Linked DNA regions of Homo sapiens. The protein of the gene in region 2 interacts with the protein of the main gene of each other region in a biochemical or structural test. Each region holds a gene or a part of one and is shown on either strand. Other genes may lie near its edges.

Region 1 (3,770 bases), on a different chromosome or scaffold from region 2:
GTTGGTAGAGTTCTCCCTTTTCTCAAATAATTCAAAGCACCTATTAGCCTCACAAGCATATTAAATCTTCATTACATTTGTACCTAGTTTCTTGAATTTCTGTGCCCTCTGAAATTCAAAGAGTAATTCACTCTTCCAGTCAGGCATGGCAGATCAATCTATAATCCCAGTGCTTTTGGAGGCCAAAGCTGGAGCATCGCTTGAGACCAGGAGTTCAAGACCAGCCTGGGCAACATAGTAAGACCTTGTCTCTACAAAAAATAAAATATTAGCCAGGTGTGGTGGCTCATGCCTGTGGTCCCAGCTACTTGGGAGGCTGAGATGGGAGAATCGCTTGAGGCTAGGAGGCCAGGGATGCACTGAGCCATGACTGCATCACTGCACTCCAGCCTGGGTGACAGACACCCTGTCTCAAAACAAACAAAAAATTACTCTTCCTAAATTACCTCTAGTCTTGCCTTTGTCCTTACTCAGTAACTTCCAATGACTCCCTTTTGGCTACTCCATCAAATTTAAGCTCTACCTGGCTTTCAAATTCCTGATAAATTGTCTCCTCTTTACTTGTTTGGCTTTCTCATCCACTGTTCTCCAACATGTACCTTTCTCTCAGGCTGGCCAGCACCACATGCCCTATAAACACAATGCTCAAACGTGTCTGAAACTGCTTTTGTAGTTCCCTTCATCTAGAGTGCTCTCCTATTTACTGCCTGCCTATCTGAACTCCACCCATTCTTCTAGGGCTACAAACCCTTCCCTGACTGCCCTAGCCCTCACTGATTTACCTTGCCTATGACTCTGAATATACTTATAGCCTATTACATGGTCTAGGACTTCTTTATGCCATTCTGTGATACAGATGAGTACTGTACCACTTACAGCTTCACGTGTGTGCCCTCAAAGGAAAGCTTCATGTTTGTTTCACATTTAATGCTTATAACTGTGCTAAGCACAAAACTCATATGCAAATGAATATCAAGTTTTTCTACAAATCATTATTGGGAGAGCACAAGGAACACAGAGTACCTATATGTAGTATAGTCGGAAGGCAGCAGGACTGTGTGTCACAGCGCAATGTGCCACTATACAGCCATGTGAGCATGTTAAATCTCAGCCTTCCAATCCATAAAATGAAGATGGCATCTACCTCAGTAGAGTTGCTGTGAAGATGAGGCGCAGGGAATTAAAGAATACTAAATGTGGAAATCTTCCTTGAAAAATGCATAGTGCAAAATCAAACTGAAGTACTATTATTCTTCTCCACGACTATTACACTGTAGCAGCCCATAAAACCATAAGCTTGAATTTTCTTTTTAAATATACAATTTTGTGAGAAGGAAAAGCAAAAGTCTAGATTAATCTTGTACAGATAGTTAGTATGTTATGTTAAAATGGACATATATGTTAAATGTAACTGAAGTTTATCCATTAGTTTCTAATTGAATTTTCTAGTGATATGCCATGATGGTTTTTAATCAAGACCTACTGTTGTTCCAAGACTTTGAATGAGGTTCCCACTAAAAAAAAAGTCAGCAAGATACTCTTTATTTGTCTCCTAAAAAGTTTTTGAAAGACTATAGTCTCATCGTCAGGCCTGGCACCACTGCAGAAGCATCAAGATACTGGCGCAGGCAAACTCATTAGAGGCCACAAAAGGCCCAACCCTGCAGTAAGCCAAGAGATTTTCCTTGTGCTGGGCATATTTCAGGAAGAGACTGACGTGCTTGAGAACAGGAGCTCTCCAGCACACCTATATGATGATGATGGCTGTCAATCTGTTCTAAGCCACTGGATGCAGCAAGTCAGGACTGGGAAGCATTTGTTGATAAACGCAGAGATTGCTTAGTGAAAAAATGGAAGCAAATCTAAATATCCAACAATATGGGAATGGTTTAAAAAATAAGGAGACTGGCCAGGTGCACTGGCTTACGTGTGTAATCCCAGCACTTTGGGAGGCCAAGGCAGGCAGATCACCTGAAGTCAGGAGTTCGAGACCAGCGTGGCCAATGTGGTGAAACCCCGTTTCTACTAAAAATACAAAAAAATTAGCCGGGGTGGTGTATGACTGTAATCCCAGCTACTCGGGAGGCTGAGGCAGGATAATCACTTGAACCCAGGAGGTGGAGGTTGCAGTGAGCCGAAACTGCGCCACTACACTCCAGCCTGGGCGACAAGAGCGAAACTCCGTCTCAAAAAAAAAAAAAAAAAAAAAGGCAGGGGAGGGAAGGAGATAGATGGTACAAGATTACGTGGCCATCAAAAGAAGAGATTTAATGTCATGAAAAGATTTATTTAAGAGCAATGGGGGCTGGAGGGACGAGGCTGCACAATATTTTATTTCTGTAAAATATCCCCTAAAGAACAAACAAACCCGAACAGAAAGGTTACACCAAATGGTTAACACTGGTTCTGTCTCTGGGTAATAACATTATTATATCCTCATTTTCCTATCTTTTTAAATTTTCTTCAAGTATGTATTACTTTTTTAAAAATTGGGTACTATTTCTTTTTTTAAGAAAAAAAGTGTTTTTCTGTTTAAAGAGAAACCACTAGTGCAGATAAACAGCTATGAAAAATAATTCTAAAGGTACTCACAAAATAGGATTTTCTTCAAAGAAACAAAATCCTAAATCAGATAATAAATGCTGAAAATAGAGGATCTAGGAAACAGCCTAGCCCCTCTATCCCAATTCCTTCCCCAAGGGACATCTTTCTAGTCAGGGTCAAAATACTGAGAAGTTATTTCCCAGTGGCTAGAGCAGATATCCTAGGAGAAGAATCAAAAAAGAAAGAAAGAAAAGAAAAAGAAGACTACCTACTGCTAATCCATTTTTTTTTAAATAAAGGCAGTGCAAAGACAGAAAGGGTTGAAAATGACAGCTGTGGCCTTTAGAAGCACTGGCTTTCAGCTATGTTTTGTTTTCAAGGCAAAGAACATGCTCGATTCGAAAATAATAAGCTTTGAATTTAATAATTTGTTAGAAATTTCAGATGAAGACTCCATTATTATATGTCAGGAATTACCCAAGCTCTATACATATAAAATATACGGTGGGGTCTGCTTTTAGCAAGCCTTACATACACATCTGAGCTTCTAAAGAGAAAGTAGGTGATTTTTCTACATTTCCACATTATAACTTACCTGAATCTGTTTTCTCAGTGTTAAAAAGAGACATTAATAGCTATCAAATAAGATAATGAACATAAAATGCCCATATAGTGCTGGTTAGAGTAAAGGCTCATAAGCCATTCTTATTTTTTATTCTTAAGCTACCTCACAAAAATGTAACACATATAATCCAATGTGTGTTGAAATAACTAACAAAATGAAAAACTACCAAATTTCTAAGAACTCTTTGGATTATTCATTGAGAGGAATTTAAAAGAAAGCAGTGTAGTCCTCCCCTCAGAGAGCTTAAACTCTAGTGGTAGAAACACAAGAAAAGAGCACATGTATATCTATTACACATCAATTAAAAAAAAAAACAGCACACGTTTAAGGGTTACAATGCCTCTCCTTAGAAAGCCAACCAGACAGAACTAGAGGAAATAGGTTTAAAGGTAGCTAGGTCGTGACTTAAAAAGAGATGTTATTAATAAAGTGCATGTATGTTTTTCTAGATGAGATAAAAATCAAAGGCCAAAGCAGATAAAGAAATGAGAATAAGGAAGAAAACTGACAAGAAAATCTGAAAAATCTAGGCTCGAATGTTTCAATGGGGTAAGGAACTGATCACATATTCTGAACAGCATTCACAGATGTACCATTCCAG
Region 2 (3,770 bases):
AGTTAACCCTTCATACCAATTCTAGCACCTAATTGGGGGGAAAAAAGGATCCATTTAATAAAATCATTTAAGATATAAAAGGAATTTAATGACTCTTTACTATATTTACCAATAGAAAAGCAAATTTAAAAAACGTTTCCCAACTGGGAAAATGCCAAAGAATTTGAATGGATTGGACATTAATCCTTTTTGACCTGCAGCTTAACAGCTGCATGAACTCTTTCAGATGAGCTATCTCCACAGTTAACTTGGAAGCCTTCAAGGTAAACTACATAAAACACATGGAAAAATAAATTGGCTAATGCATAGCACAAATACATTTTTGGAATATATGTTGGAATCTTTCCACATTCTTATGAAAGTTTTAAGTATCCTTGTTTAGGATTTTAATCTGTTTTCTTCTTTCATCAATAAACACTGTTTATAATGATCAAGGTTACAGGACCTAAAGTCTTGCTCTTTCCTGCTGCTTCATCCATTTCTAGCCAATCATCTAGCGTCCAGATACTTTGTATTTTTAGAATTAAAGTAGTATACTGTCATAAAAAAGTAAGTTGTGATATTGCTAAAACTAAGAGGAAGCAAATGGCTAAGAAAGATCACGGAACAGGAGGATAGTTATGAGACACTGTCAAAAAGAATTACATTAGATGGACACTACAACACTCACTAAGTAGCAAATATTTAAACGTGCAACCTTTCCCCTGCTGCTCAGCTAAGGCTTGACTAATATATGTGCTTCCATAATGCTTTTGTCTTTATATTAGGTAACTAGGCTACTTAACATAAGAAGTCAATGATGCTGAACAAAATCTTAGATTTGTCAGTGGGATCCTATGAGAACCTATGTAGTTTTGAGCTCTTGTAGGTATGCTGGCAATCCCAATTGGTGTAAAGGATAAACTTTTTGAAGAGTAAGGTGTAGCTTTTCAATTCATGACTTGACATGAGAGTAAGAGAGAGACTGAGAGAGTATAGAAAGCCACTTAAATCAGATATTCCAAGACCTTCTACCATCTTGCTTGAGGCTTCCAGAACATAACAAACACTGATCAGTTAAAAAACCTCGTTTTCATTTAAGCTCTCAGTGGTTCTCTAAAGAGGCTTTTCAAACAGAGAAACTGGCTGCCTAAAAAAGGAGACTACCATGTAAATTAGTGCAGTTCTTCTGCGTTAAGTTTGCTCATTTCACCTCTGTAGAATGTTTAGGCTAGGATTTGCTGCCTTGGCTGATGGATTATTCTCCACTTATGATGAGTCTAAGGAAGCTATGGCAAAATTAATGCTAAGTGGCAGGAGAAACACACACGTTATGTTAAAAAACTTTCAATATTTCTACCAAATCAGCAGAGAATATGTGGAAAAAACAGGTACTCTCAGAAACACGTACTCCACCAAAAGGGTGTTTTGTTTAGAAAGTTCACTGCTTATCTCAGGATTTATTTATCCAATGTATCATGTACAAGTGCTATATATGCATCAATCAATTTTCTTTCCTTTTTTTATGGCTAGGCTTCCTTGAATCACATCTATCAATTTTCAACTGAACACTAAAATAACTTTTTCTCCCCTTTGACAACTGAGGAAAAACCTACTTCTTAGGGGACAGAAGAAAGAGAACCATGAGGAAGAGAATAAAATATGACCAAGATATGTTTAAATCTGGTGATGTCTAAGCATCTTCTGCTATATCTTGCATCTCCTGCTATATTTTGGGCTCTATCTACTGAAAGCCCTGTGGGAGAGTTGTACTGGCATAACAGAAGCTAAACTGTGCTTAGCCCACAGTGAATGTTCACTAGTCTTTATCTGTTTTTCAAACTGACCATCTATTAATCCATCCAGCATCCATACAACCTCAATAAGCACTATCATCTTCTCCACAGATGCAAGCTACCTATTCTTTTCCCTTAAATCAAGCCATTTGTAAGGAGACACAGACCCATGATTTGGGATGATCTCTAAGGCTCAGTACAATGGTGTATTTCTATAATCCTGTTTCAGTCTAAAAATGGGCCTGAGTTTAAAATGGAGATATAGTAAATAGCTTACCTTAATTGTACCCTGACTGTTAGCAGCAATCAGCACATTGGACTCCTAGAAAAGAACAAGAGCTTTTAAAGTATAGAGAAGGATTTCCTGGAGAGCAATCCAAGAGATAATTTCCTCTTCATCCTTCTTTCTTCACTTCAATTCCTAAGACAATTGAATCTAATATGAAGATACAATTTTTTTTTTTTTTTTTTGAGACGGAGTCTTGCTCTGTTGCCCAGGCTGGAGTGCAATGGCGCGATCTTGGCTCACCACAACCTCCACTTCCTGGGTTCAAGCGATTCTCCTGCCTCAGCCTCCCGAGTAGCTGGGATTACAGGCATGCGCCACCAGCCCAGGTAATTTTTGTATTTTTAGTAGAGACGGGGATTCTCCATGTTGGTCAGGCTGGTCTCGAACTCCCAACCTCAGGTGATCTGCCCACCTCGGCCTCCCAAAGTGCTGGGATTACAGGCGTGAGCCACTGTGCCCAGTCGAAGAGACAATTTTAACATGTTTTTAACTGTATTTTAAACTTAAGATCCCATATTTTGAAGTGTAAGTTTTAATAAAAGAATAAAGTTAGAAGCAGAGTAGGACACTTTTGAATGTAAACAAAAATAAAAGGGAAAAAGATTGTCAATGGAAGAAAAGCCAAAAGAAACAAAGACTGAAATAAAATGAAAAAAAGAGTAAGTTGAGAAAAACAAAGTGAATAATTGCTTTCCCAGCACACTCCTTCTTCATTCATTTTCTCTCATAAAATACCAGTAATTGATGTAAAACCTGCCAACATCCTTGGCACAAATCTCTATGGATGGACATTTGGTATTAGGAAAACAAGAAAATGTGAATATTCATTTGGGAAAAAGGACTATCTTTCTTTTTAATTATTCTATCATTCAGCACATGCATTTTTAATAACCTTGGTAATTACTTGGATGAGAATATATGTGGTGAAGTATTTTTCTATTCTAAGCCAAGGAAAAAACATTTCTCTGGAAAGTAGGAAGAGTGGGAAAAGAAATGGACATGACTGAGTTTACTAGAGAGAATCTCAGAAAGTAGGAAGAATGGAGACATGCCTCCTGTAGGAAACTGGGCATCTAAAGGGCTCTGGAACTTGGATGTGTTGGAGTCTTTTGCTTTCCATGGTAGGCAGCTAAGAGGTGGTAAACAGACTTAAAATGTCATAGAGGTCAGGCCAGGTGGCAGAGAGAAAAACGAAGTCCAAATAACAGCTATGAGAAACAGATAAAGTGGTCTAATTTGAATGTAGGATAGGATCTACCTAAATATCCTTCAGGCTTCATGACAAAGCAATAATAAGAACAAAGAAAACTCTTGGCTTGTATGTTAGAAAAGTTACTTCAGCTAAGCTGAGTTAAACTTTAGTTTCTTTGACATATGCAAGTTGCGCTTTACAAACTCATACATTTCCATTTTTAAATTTTCCCTTTCATTTCTAATAAAGCTGCTCTTCAGAAATGTGCATCTTGTTACTAATGGCATACAAGAAAATAATAATGTCTTCCACTATTCCAGAATTTTTAATGGAATCAGAATACTCTTTGGAATTAGTCAGCAGCATCAAAGATTATAGGTGTATCAAGAAGAAATAAAGACATGTGGGCATGGGAATTGTTGATCTTTTCCTAGCTGAGGATTTTCCTTAAATTAGCAAATGTTCTTAAAAATAGTAACATGGGGGCTGGGCGCAGTGGCTCACACCTGTAATC
Region 3 (3,770 bases), on a different chromosome or scaffold from region 2:
TGACTGCAGGCCTTGCTAAGAAAAACAGAATGCTCTGGCATATTTAATGGTTACTTTCCACCCCTCTCTTCTGCTGGAAGCATGAGAAGATTTTTTCCAATATTCACTGGGAGAACCTGGTAGAGCTCCTGGAGGTAAAACTCACAAAATTATGGGGGACCATGGAGTTCTTAACTCTGACACTTGTCCACTCTGAGTCTCCAGTAATTTGTCAACTACAGGTCAGGTTTTCCTACTACCCTCGCACTGGTTCCTGAAGAGGTTTCTGCACCAGTTAAGTTGTGATTCTCTCTATCTGCCTATCTCCAATTATGGGGGCAGAGATTTGCCCTGTGACCTCGATTCTCTGCTATATACAAGAAAAGTTGTTTTCTCAGGTTGTTCAGTTTTTAATTTGTTATTAGCGTGAAGTGGTAACCTTAAGCTTCTTACATGGCATATTATTATTTTGAGACAGAGTTTCATTCTGTCAGCTGGAGTGCAATGTGGCATGTTCATGGCTCACTGCAGCTTTGACCTCCTAAGCTCAATTGATCCTCCCACCTCAGCCTCCTTAGCTGGGACTATAGGCGTGCACTACCATGCCTGGATAATTTTTTTTTTTTTTTTTCTGGTAGAGACAGGATTTTGCCATGTTGCTCAGGCTGGTCTCGAGCTCCTGGGCTCTGCCCGTTTCAGCATCCCAAAGTGCTGGGATTACAGGTGTGAGCAACCATGCCCAGCCACATACCAGATTCTTGTAGGATTTTTAGTATGAGTTTTTGTCTTGAGGGGCAAAGGAAATTTAAGACTACCATTCCTAGATTTCCTACCTGTTAAAAGTTTGAGAATCACTATTCTAGCAAAATTATATGCAACAAGCACTATAAAGAAGTTGTGACAATTTATAAATTAATTTTAATTTAAAATCTCAGTGTGTACAGATCAATAGTACACACGGAGCAGCTCATGTTTTAGCACACTAGAAGGCAGAAAGGGAGTCGTTTTTTGTTTTCCAAAATCAGATTATGAAGAACAAAATTACTTTAAAATTAGTAATTCAAAATTTGGCATACGTATCACTCTACTTTTTTTTTCCACCTCACAAAATCTTTCTTTTTTTTTTTTAAGTTCCGGGGTACATGTGCAGGATGTGCAGGTTTGTTACATAGGTGAACATGTGCCATGGTGGTTTGCTACACGTATCAACCCATCACCTAGGTATTAAGTCCAGTATGCATTAGCCATTTTTCCTAATGCTCTCCCTACTTCCACCCCACTCTACTTTTTATTTGAAGGTACAGAGTTTCAAGTAGTTCTAAAATGCACAAATGAGTTACCCATGGAACATTTTCTAACTCCTACCTCAAAAACCAGATTATTCCAAAGTATTCGTTATACCTTTGCAGTATGTTTGAAATATTTCATAATAAATGTAACTGCATGAGGTTAAAGGATTTCATACCATTTGATGTTTTAAAACAGGCATTTCAAAAGGAGGTCCTTTTGCTTACAGCTCCAAACTCACTGGACATTTACAGCTTAGAGTATGGTTAAAGTATGGAGACTAAAATGCTTGTTCCTATTAATATATACTTACTTAGGAAAACCAGTCAACTTTTCCTTTAGATATGTAGATGTGATTTGACTACAATGAAGAAAAGTATTTCAAGAAATACTAAATTTGTTCTTTGAATAAGGGAGTGCTAAACAGCTATTACTTTTCTACAGAATCAAAATTTAGTAAAATTAATTTTTCTCATTGCATTATAATTGGGCTAAAAATTAATCAACAAAATATGGCTCATTTAAAATTTGCCTGGGTTTTTCTTTCTTTATATAGAAGTAGGGGAATATTTAAATGTTTATTTGAATATGTGTATGTTCAGCAAATGCTAAAAATTTTATCTTTCTGAGTGACATGAACAAATGACTGCCTGTTGGAAGATGCACTAAACAAAAGCGAGCCTATAGTCTGGTGTTTGCAACTGTCTGAACCATTCAGGAAGAAATCTGGCTGAAACTTCTAGTGAGTTTAATTCATGTCTACCCAGAAAGGCAGCTGCTTGGAGATAAGGCTTTAATGTTTCTCTTGTCCAAGTTTGAATTCACTTTTATCAAAACTAAAAAAATTCTATGGTAGCACACAGTTGTTTTAATATTTTTAAAATTAACCTAGGCTTTTTTTCTCAAATGAAAAATTTTAGCCCATTCATAATGTTCTCTTTTGAAAATAAAATTTCATTCTTCTAGGAAAACAAATTGGAAATAGGAGGTTTTAAAAAGGTCATGCTATACAAACTAGTCATTTCATGTACACAAAGAGTCTAAGGTAATAATTTGAAAATGTTGTTAAAGATTTATGTGAGAAATATGCTTTGTATGTTCATAGGGTGCAATATTTTGCAGACTCTAAAGTCATGCTTTAGTGAATATCTAAAGACCAGGAAAACGTTCATGGTATATGTTGCAGAAAAGCATTGAATAATTAACCATAAAGTGTGGTCCGAATTTTGGAAAATAAAAATCCACATGTGGACATCTGAAACAAAATACATCAAAATAATGGGTTGTATTATTTCTGCTACCAAACTTTCTATACTTTTCAGATTTTCCATGAGGATGTATTTTCATTTAGGTCAAGAAAAATGTACTTTTACTCACTGATGACTATATACCTCCTCTCTTAGAATTGCTCACACAAACCACAACCAAACTGAATAAACTTTGGTCTCAAACGTACTTTTTCTATTCTATATTATTTACCTTCAGCATATATCACAAGGCAGGAAAAATAAATTGTTGCCTACTTCCCCTTCAAAAGTGTTTATGTCTTAACTCTTAGATTGATTCCAGGTCACTTGGGAATGATTTCAACATAGTGTGTACGTGTGTGTGTGTGTGTGTGTGTGTTTGTATGTATGTATGTACATACGTACATACATGTGTTTAAGGGCTGGTAATGTCTCCCTTTAGAATAATTTATTGTTTTTAAAACTCTCTCAAATACATATGTACACACACACACACACACACACTTATTTTGCCTAAGTTACACTTCTTTTTCATCTATATAAGAATATAGATACTTGTGCTTCTAAGCAAAGAGCATTACCTATTACATAAGGTTCTCAGATAACTGACATGGCAGGCTCACTCATTAAGGGAAATTCCTCCCTTCCATTATACATGGTAGTGGCAAAAGCTTAGCCAGCAGATGGTTATGGTTCTCTTGATCATAAAGAAATGTTCCCTAGTTTCAATGAGGTAGACTGGTCTATAAGGAAAATAGACCAGAAGATCCATGTTTTGATACTAGAAATAATGCATGTAACATTCAAAGAAGGATCTTGAGGGCAGGAACCAAGACATCTAAAAATTTAAAAGAGAACCCACAGGGTTCGGCCTATAGTAGAAACTGAAGAAATATTTAAAGAATGAATTACATTTTTATTAAGCAATTCTATTTTTCCATTGTCTTGAAGTACAAAGTGTTGGTGTGGCAAAAGCCTTTGATATCAAAAAAATTGTGGAAATGATTATGCTCCCCTGATATTCTATAAATAGTTCACTCCTTTTTCATGGATATTTACAATATTAATTGGCAGAAGTAGGAATTATCTTGTGGGTACATGCTACTGTATGGCATTTTTGACCCAGCAACCATGTCCTAGTCATGCTGTGTTCCTGGGCTCCTAATTCAGTGGTGTTTACCTCATGAACCAAAGAATGCCCCAAATGAATAGTATACCTTAGAAATCCTTTCAGCACAAGGCTTACAGTGTCTCATT
Region 4 (3,770 bases), on a different chromosome or scaffold from region 2:
CTTTCCTCTGTTCATTCATTCATTCATTCATTCATCCAGCAAATACATCTTGAGCAGCTGCTATGTGCCAGGACCTGTTCCAGGCATCTGGGCCTCAGCAGTTACCAGAAGGGAGTCCCTCCGCCCTAGAGCTTTTGTCCGAGTGACATCATTCCACACGCAGTGCTTTGAGGCCACTTTGTGAGACTCTGATACCCACAATGACAAGTAATCCAGCAGTGGGAACTGTGATGAGCTCCCTTTTACAGGTGAGGAAACTGAAGCTCGGAGAGGTCAAGTGATCCGTCTGGGGCCACGCAGTTACTAAATGGCAAAGTCAAGATTCAGACTCCAAGCCTGTCACCACTGTGCCATCTTGTCCTGCTGAGTTCCAAGGGATATGGCGTTGAGAAGGGGGGTCCTAGGGAGAGGGCATGGTAGCCCCCAAAGGGATGAATGAACTCAAATGGATTTAAAAGCAGATGGTTGGAAGTCTAGCCACATTCACTTCCTGTAGCGTTGTGGACTCAGTTAAATCTCATTCTTTCTGATCTTCAGTTTGTTCATCTGTGAAATGATAACAATAACACCGACCTCAAATGAGAGAGAAATGTGAAAGTGCTTAGCATATGATAGGTATTGGATAAATGTCAGCCCTTACCTCCTTTCCCCCGGGACTGACTTTATACATCTGGGAATGGAGACAATAATATTTAATGTCTATAGTTATTATTTGGATTAAAATAGATAGAAGGGGCCAGCCATGGTGGTTCACGCCTGTAATCACAACACTTTGGGAGGCCAAGGTGTGTGGATCACGTGAGCCCGGGCATTGGAGACTAACCTGGGCAGTAGAGTGAGACTCCATCTCTACAAAAAATAAATTTTAAAAGTAGGAATGGTGGTACATGCCTGTGGTCCCAGCTTCTGGGGAGGCTGAGGTGGGAGGATTGCTTGAGCCTGGGAGGTCGAGGCTGCAGTGAGCTATGATTGTGCCACTGCACTCCAGCCTGGGTGACAAAGCCATACCCTGTCTCAAAACAAAAAACAACCAAATGGGAGGTGCTGTGTGAAGTGTGCCATGGAGGGTAGGCATTACTGATGGTACATTGCAGGCATTAGCCTCAGTCATAATTCCAAGCAGTTAACCCCTGAGGCAGCAGCTTACTGTTGGCACAGACTGGTGTTGAGGTGGGCTGGGACAGAGGAAGGATCTCAAACTGGTTTTCTGCTGCCTTGGGCTCCCTTCCCCGACTCCTGCCCCATCCACTCATAACGGGCACCTGCCCTCTTCCCCCTCCTCTGATTTGGCAAACTCGGGACTTTTGCTCCTAGAAGTGGGGTAGAGGAACGTATGCATGGACGAGTGTCCTGTCCCTTCTGGTCCTTAGTCTCCCAGCTGGGAGGCAGCCCTTGTCCTGACAGCCTTCTAAAGGTGACAGAAGATGGAAATGAGGTGGCGAGGAAACCCTTTCCAAAGGTGAGGTCTCTGCAGTCACGAGCCCTGGTTTTGGAGCCGGGAAGTCTGGGTTCCAGTGCCTGCCCAGTTCTGACCTCCCTGGACCTCAATGTCATCATCCCCCACCTCCCACTGCAAACTGAGGGAATGTTAGCAAGAATGGCAAAGCAGCCATTGAACATCCTTATCTGTAAAATGGGGGTAATAATTGCTACGACCTGGGTGGGGTTAAGCTGTATTTGCTCCATAGTTATTTGGTATACAGTACATTCATGCTTTAAACTAAAAAATAAGTTCAAGTTCATTGAACACTTGGTGTTTGTTGGGCACTGCACTGAAGGCTTGAATTATCACATTTAATCCTCACAATAGCTCTTTGGGGTAGGAGCTGTTATTTTATTTTTTAATATTTTAAAAAATAAATAAATTTATTTATTTTTTGTAGAGATGGGATCTCACCATTTTGCCCAGGCTGGTCTCGAACTCCTGGGCTCAAGCGATCCTCCCACCTTGGCCTCCCAAAGTGTTGGGATTACAGGTGTGAGCCACTGCACCCAGCCTTATTTTTTAGTTTAAAGCATGAATGTGCTATACACCAAATAACTATGGAGCAAATACGGCTTAACCCCACCCAGGTCGTAGTAATTATTACTCCCATTTTACAGATAAGGAAACCAAGGCCCAGAGATGAGATGTGACTTGTGCAAGACCATACAGCCAGTGAGTGGCAGATGAGATGTAAAGCATTGATCAGGCAACGTTCTCAGACTATAGAATCCTCTCTGGAGTTCTCCGTGGCTGTGACCATCCTCTAGGAGAGGGGCTAGGCCAGAGAGAAGGCGGGCCTAAGGTTTTGTTTTGTTGAGATGGAGTCTCGCTCTTGTCGCCCCCGCTGGAGTGCAGTGGTGCTATCTCTGCTCACTGCAATCTCTGCCTCCTGGGTTCAAGAGATTCTCATGCCTCAGCCTCCCGAGTAGCTGGGATTACAGGTGCATGCTACCACACCCGGCTAATTTTTGTATTTTTGGTAGAGATGGGGTTTCACCATGTTGGCCAGTCTGGTCTTGAACTTCTGACCTCAAGTGATCCGCCCACCTCGGTCTCCCAAAGTGCTGGGATTACAGGCGTGAGCCACTGCGCCCGGCCGGACTAAGAATTTGATGCCTCCCTCCTCCTGGGCTGGAGCTGAGTAGCATGTTCTCAAGCAGGGCTGGCTGAGAGGGTGGAATCCTGGGGCTATGCTCTGATGGGAAGGAAGCGAGATAAGGGAAGAAGGACCTGGAGCCTCCTGGGGTAGTGACTTTGTATCCTTGAGCTCCTACTACGTGCCAGACCTTGTTTGAAACCCTTTATGTGGCTGGGCACGGTGGCCGACGCCTGTAATCCCAGCATTTTGAGAGGCCGAGGCGGTCGGATCACCTGAGGTCAGGAGTTCGAGACCAGCCTGGCCAACATGGTGAAACCCCGTCTCTACTAAAAATACAAAAATTAGCTGGCGCAGCGGTGGGCACCTGTAATCCCAGCTACTTGGGAGGCTGAGGCAGGAGGATTGCTTGAACCTGGGAGACGGAGGTTGCAGTGAGCCAAGATTGTGCCACTTATACTCTAGCCTGGGTGACAGAGCAAGATCCTGTCTCTCTCTGTCACACACACATGCGCACACACACACACACACACAAGAAAGAAAAAAAAGAAACCCTTTATGTGTGCTTAATCTCCATGACATTCCCATGTTGCAACAAGGAAACTGAGGTTCTGGGAGGGAAGTGACCTGCCTGAGGTCACTAAGCCTGGAAGGGTCATTTAGATGTAATTCACATACTCATAACTCAGTCTTTTAAAACGTACAATTCAGTTGGTTTCTTAGTGTATTCAGAGTTGTACAGACATCAGCACTATCTCATTCCAGAACATTTTCATCACCCCAAAAAAGGACTCTGTACCCATTAGCAGTCACCACTCCCCACTCCCAGCCCCTGGCAACAACTAATCTGCTTTCTGTCTCTGTGGATTTGCCTGTTCTGGGCATTTCATATAAATGGAATCCTGCAATATGTGGCCTTTTGTGTCTACAAGGTGCATGCTCTTAACCATTAAGCCACACCGCTTCTTGGTGGCTCCTACCCAGGGGCCGGGACCCTTGGAAATGACTTGGTCCCTGTGAAAGCTCAGAGGGGCATCTGTGTGTGCTGTCAGCCGGCCTCCCTCCAGCCAAGGGCTTGCAGAATGACCAAATGACTGCCGTGGCCACGCTGGCCTTGCCCTCCGTGGGGCGCGGTGAGTCACCCCAGACCTGCCCTGCCTGGGTGGTGTGAGTGCATGGGGTGGGGGC
Region 5 (3,770 bases), on a different chromosome or scaffold from region 2:
AGGTTTCATTTAAAGTCTTCTTAATAGTTGCCTTTTATTTTAAGGATGGTCAGTGTTTGCATGTAATTTCATAACAGGGAACTTCTTAAATAGGTTATTATGATATGAAATGTATGCAGTTTTAAGATCTCAGTGTGTGTTTTGATCTTCTTATAGTATATGCAGAATCAGAATGTTCCGGGAAATATTGAGTTAACTGTGAATATCCTGACAATGGGCTATTGGCCGACATATGTGCCTATGGAAGTTCATTTACCACCAGAGGTAAGAGTTACTGTTTAGAACTGAGTTATAGGCATAGAAATCATAGCATTTCCATTTTGCTTGTCATTTAAAAATAGATACTTAGAAAAAAATAGAGACCCAGGGTCTCGCTGTATTGCTCAGGCTGGTCTTGAACTCTTGGGCTCAAGTGATCCCCCCCGCCTCAGCCTTCCGAAGTGCTGGGATTACAGGTGTAAGTCACCAGGCTTGGCATGGATACTTTTAAAAGTGTATGTCAGTAAGCGCACCAACACCAAATACCAACTGCTTTAATGTTTTACTTTTGTACTTAGAAGTCCAGTTAAGCACATAGCTAATAATGCCAAATTTCTGGGTTCAGGGTCAATTTCCCTGGCTCTTCTTCCATCTTCCCAGGTTATACCCCTCACTCTACCTAGCTATTAAGAATTCTTGCACATATTTCACCCATAGGTGGGATTGCTAAATGATGGGTCCTTGATTAAATCTATCCTGACTCCTGGTAAACTGTCTAGTCCAGGACTGAAGCCCATAAAAGGGATTAAGGCTAGACAGATAGATATTGAGAATCCTCCATGGAGATGATTATGAAGGCCCAGGGAGTAGATTTCTCTCAAAGAGGAAGAAAAAACAGCAGAGGCAGAACTTTAGAAAAGGCTCACATTTGGCAGATGGTAGAAAGAGGAACCTGTGAAGGAAACCAATGCAGAAGCAACAGTGAAATAAAGGAAGCAGCATAGTGCAGAGGCACAAAAGCTGCTGCAGGTGAATGTTTCAAAAGAGGGGATGATTAAATGTTCAGAGAGAGCAAAAGGTATAAATCCTAATAAATCCCATTTGATTTGGTGGTTGGGAGATCATTGTTTTTCATCAAAGTGATTGGTGGACCTACTGGATATAGTCTTAAAATTTTCCAGAAACTATATCACATGAGGTAAGTATAAAAATGGTAAATGTGGTATTGGATACAGAGCTTAAATAAAGCCTTATTTTATTTACTTTAGATGGTAAAACTTCAGGAGATTTTCAAGACATTTTACCTAGGCAAACATAGTGGCAGGAAACTTCAGTGGCAGTCAACCCTAGGACACTGTGTGTTAAAAGCAGAATTTAAAGAGGTAAGTGGATGTTCCCAAAACTTTTAGTTTTCATCTTTATCTTTAATGTTTAGGTCATCCTTCTTAACTGAAAGTTTAGGCTATTGTTTTTTGTTTTCTTCTTTTTTTTTTTTTTTTTTTTTTTTGAGACAGAGTCTCACTCTGTCACCAGAGTGGAGTGCAGTGGCGCTATCTTGGCTCACCGCAACCTCTGCCTCCTGGGTTCAGGTGATTCTCCTGCCTCAGCCTCCCGAGTGGCTGGGACTACAGGCGTGCGCCACCATACCCAGCTAATTTTTTTTGTATTTTTAGTGGAGACGGGGTTTCACCATGTTGGCCAGGATGGTCTCTGTCTCTTGACCTTGTGATCCACGCGCCTCGGCCTCCTAAAGTGCTGGGATTACAGGTGTGAACCACCGCATCTGGCCAGTTTAAGCTGTTGTTTTATAATTGTATCCTAGATATCCGCATGATGACAGTGATAGTTTGTCATAGCTTTATGTATTTTTAAGTAATTTTAGGTGTGTGGTCTTTCCACGATTGATTTGGCCCTTCTGCAAAATGAAAAGCAGTGAACTTTCCCCCTACCCTTTCCTCACCTGTGGATGAAAACTGTACACTGCCACTTCCTATTTTTATTTATTTGTTTATTTTTAGAGATAGGGTCCCACTCTGTCACCCAGGCAGGAGTACAGTGGCACAATCATAGTTCACTGTAACCTCAAACTCATGGGCTCAAGCTATCCCCCTGCCTCCGCTTCCTAAAGTGCTGGGATTACAGGCATGAGCAACTACACTTAGTCTAACACTGCCACTTCTTGACAGAAATCTTGTTGCTGGGAGCTACGAATAGAGTGGGAGTTAAGGGAAACAGTGTGCAATATCTAATCTCAAAAAACTTTAGCTTTTCATGACTAATCTGAGCCAAACAAATCAAAAATACATTTGAAATAGTGATTTCTTGCTGCTTGTGATGAATATCTAGAATGACACATAAGGCTGATTAATTTTCATTACTGTATTCTATTTATAAGGCTTAAAAAAAAACTGTTAAAAGGTCAGCTAATCCTTCCCCCTATTTTAGGTAGGGTCACACCTAAACCTCACACTGAAATACTGTATTACCACGTCAAGTGGCTTTGCTGGATAATGCTAATCATGTTTCTAAATCCACTAATTGAAAAATGCTTTTCCTATAAGAGATGATTAATTTTTCATGTGTTTTTAAAAAAGTGATGACTAAACACTTTTATTTCTTCAACAGGGTAAAAAGGAACTCCAGGTCTCTCTTTTTCAAACACTGGTGCTGCTAATGTTTAATGAGGGAGAGGAGTTCAGTTTAGAAGAGATCAAGCAGGCAACTGGAATAGGTTTGTAGCAAACATTAATTGTTCACTATGTGCACACCACTATGTTAAGAGGTCTGGGGGACATATTTATAGGAATAATTCCTTGCCTCAGAACTGTTTTGAGTTTTTTTTTTCTTTTTTTTTAATGAGACAGGGTCTCACTCTGTCACCCAGGCTGGGGTCCAGTGGTACAATCATGGCTCAGGCTCAAGTGATTCTCCTGCCTCAGCCTGCCAAGCAGATGGGACTACAAGTGCATGCCACCGTGCCTGGCTAATTTTTAAAATTTTTTTTTGTAGAGACAGGGTCTCACTATGTTGCTTAGCCTGGTCTCAAACTCCTGGGCTCAAGGGGTCTTCCTGCCTCAGCCTCCCTAAGTACTGCAATTACAGGCATGAGCCCCTGCAGCCAGCCAGAACTCTTTTTTTTTCCCCTCAAGACGGAATCTTGCTCTGTCACCCAGGCTGGAGTGCAGTGGCGCGATCTCGGCTCACTGCAACCTCTGCCTCCTGTGTTCAAGCAATTCTCCTGCCTCTGCCTCCCGAGTAGCTGGGATTACAGGCGCCTGCCACCACACCTGGCTAATGTTTGTATTTTTAGTAGAGACGGGGTTTCACCATGTTGGCCAGGCTGGTCTCGAACTCCTGACCTCGTGATCCGCCTGCCTCGGCCTACCAAAGTGCTGGGATTACAGGTGTGAGCCACCGCGCCTGGCCAGAACTCTTTATATAACCATAGGGAAAGGGGGAAATGACACTTGAAATAATGTCAAAACCCATAAGTACTGGCTTGTGGTACTGACTATAAGTGTGGTAAGAGTGCAACAAAGCAAGAGATCACCGTGGACTGGCACAATTGGGAAAGCTGTCATGAAGCAAGTGGCATTTGAGCTGGGCCTTCAAGTTTTGGTCAGGGAGAAGGCATATACAGCAAGGGGAAATATTTTGAGATGAGGTTGGGAGGTAGGAATGGGCACAGTATAGGCCCATGAAGAGCTTAATTGTAGCATAGAATCATGAAGAATCATGAAGAGCTTAATTGTAACATAGAATAGTGAGTTAAAAAATTAGGTAAGATGAGT

What was found.
Region 1: the proteins of COP1 (region 2) and YWHAB form a complex in vitro, tested with the Homo sapiens proteins (one study listed by BioGRID).
Region 3: the proteins of COP1 (region 2) and MLF1 form a complex in vitro, tested with the Homo sapiens proteins (one study listed by BioGRID).
Region 4: the proteins of COP1 (region 2) and TRPV4 interact in a test that uses a peptide from one of them, tested with the Homo sapiens proteins (one large-scale study listed by BioGRID).
Region 5: the proteins of COP1 (region 2) and CUL4B form a complex in vitro, tested with the Homo sapiens proteins (one study listed by BioGRID).

Annotation. Positions count from the first base shown.
Region 1 is NC_000020.11:44,892,134-44,895,903, reverse strand, and holds part of YWHAB (14-3-3 protein beta/alpha), read right to left. Parts: intron 1-3,770. UniProt on the Homo sapiens protein: Adapter protein implicated in the regulation of a large spectrum of both general and specialized signaling pathways. Binds to a large number of partners, usually by recognition of a phosphoserine or phosphothreonine motif.
Region 2 is NC_000001.11:175,945,143-175,948,912, forward strand, and holds part of COP1 (E3 ubiquitin-protein ligase COP1), read right to left. Parts: intron 2,098-3,770; coding exon 2,053-2,097; intron 29-2,052; coding exon 11-28; 3' UTR 1-10. UniProt on the Homo sapiens protein: E3 ubiquitin-protein ligase that mediates ubiquitination and subsequent proteasomal degradation of target proteins.
Region 3 is NC_000003.12:158,577,628-158,581,397, reverse strand, and holds part of MLF1 (myeloid leukemia factor 1), read right to left. Parts: intron 1-3,770. UniProt on the Homo sapiens protein: Involved in lineage commitment of primary hemopoietic progenitors by restricting erythroid formation and enhancing myeloid formation.
Region 4 is NC_000012.12:109,823,288-109,827,057, reverse strand, and holds part of TRPV4 (transient receptor potential cation channel subfamily V member 4), read left to right. Parts: exon of another isoform or gene 1-248; intron 249-3,770. UniProt on the Homo sapiens protein: Non-selective calcium permeant cation channel involved in osmotic sensitivity and mechanosensitivity. Activation by exposure to hypotonicity within the physiological range exhibits an outward rectification.
Region 5 is NC_000023.11:120,533,421-120,537,190, reverse strand, and holds part of CUL4B (cullin-4B), read left to right. Parts: intron 1-156; coding exon 157-264; intron 265-1,247; coding exon 1,248-1,361; intron 1,362-2,604; coding exon 2,605-2,710; intron 2,711-3,770.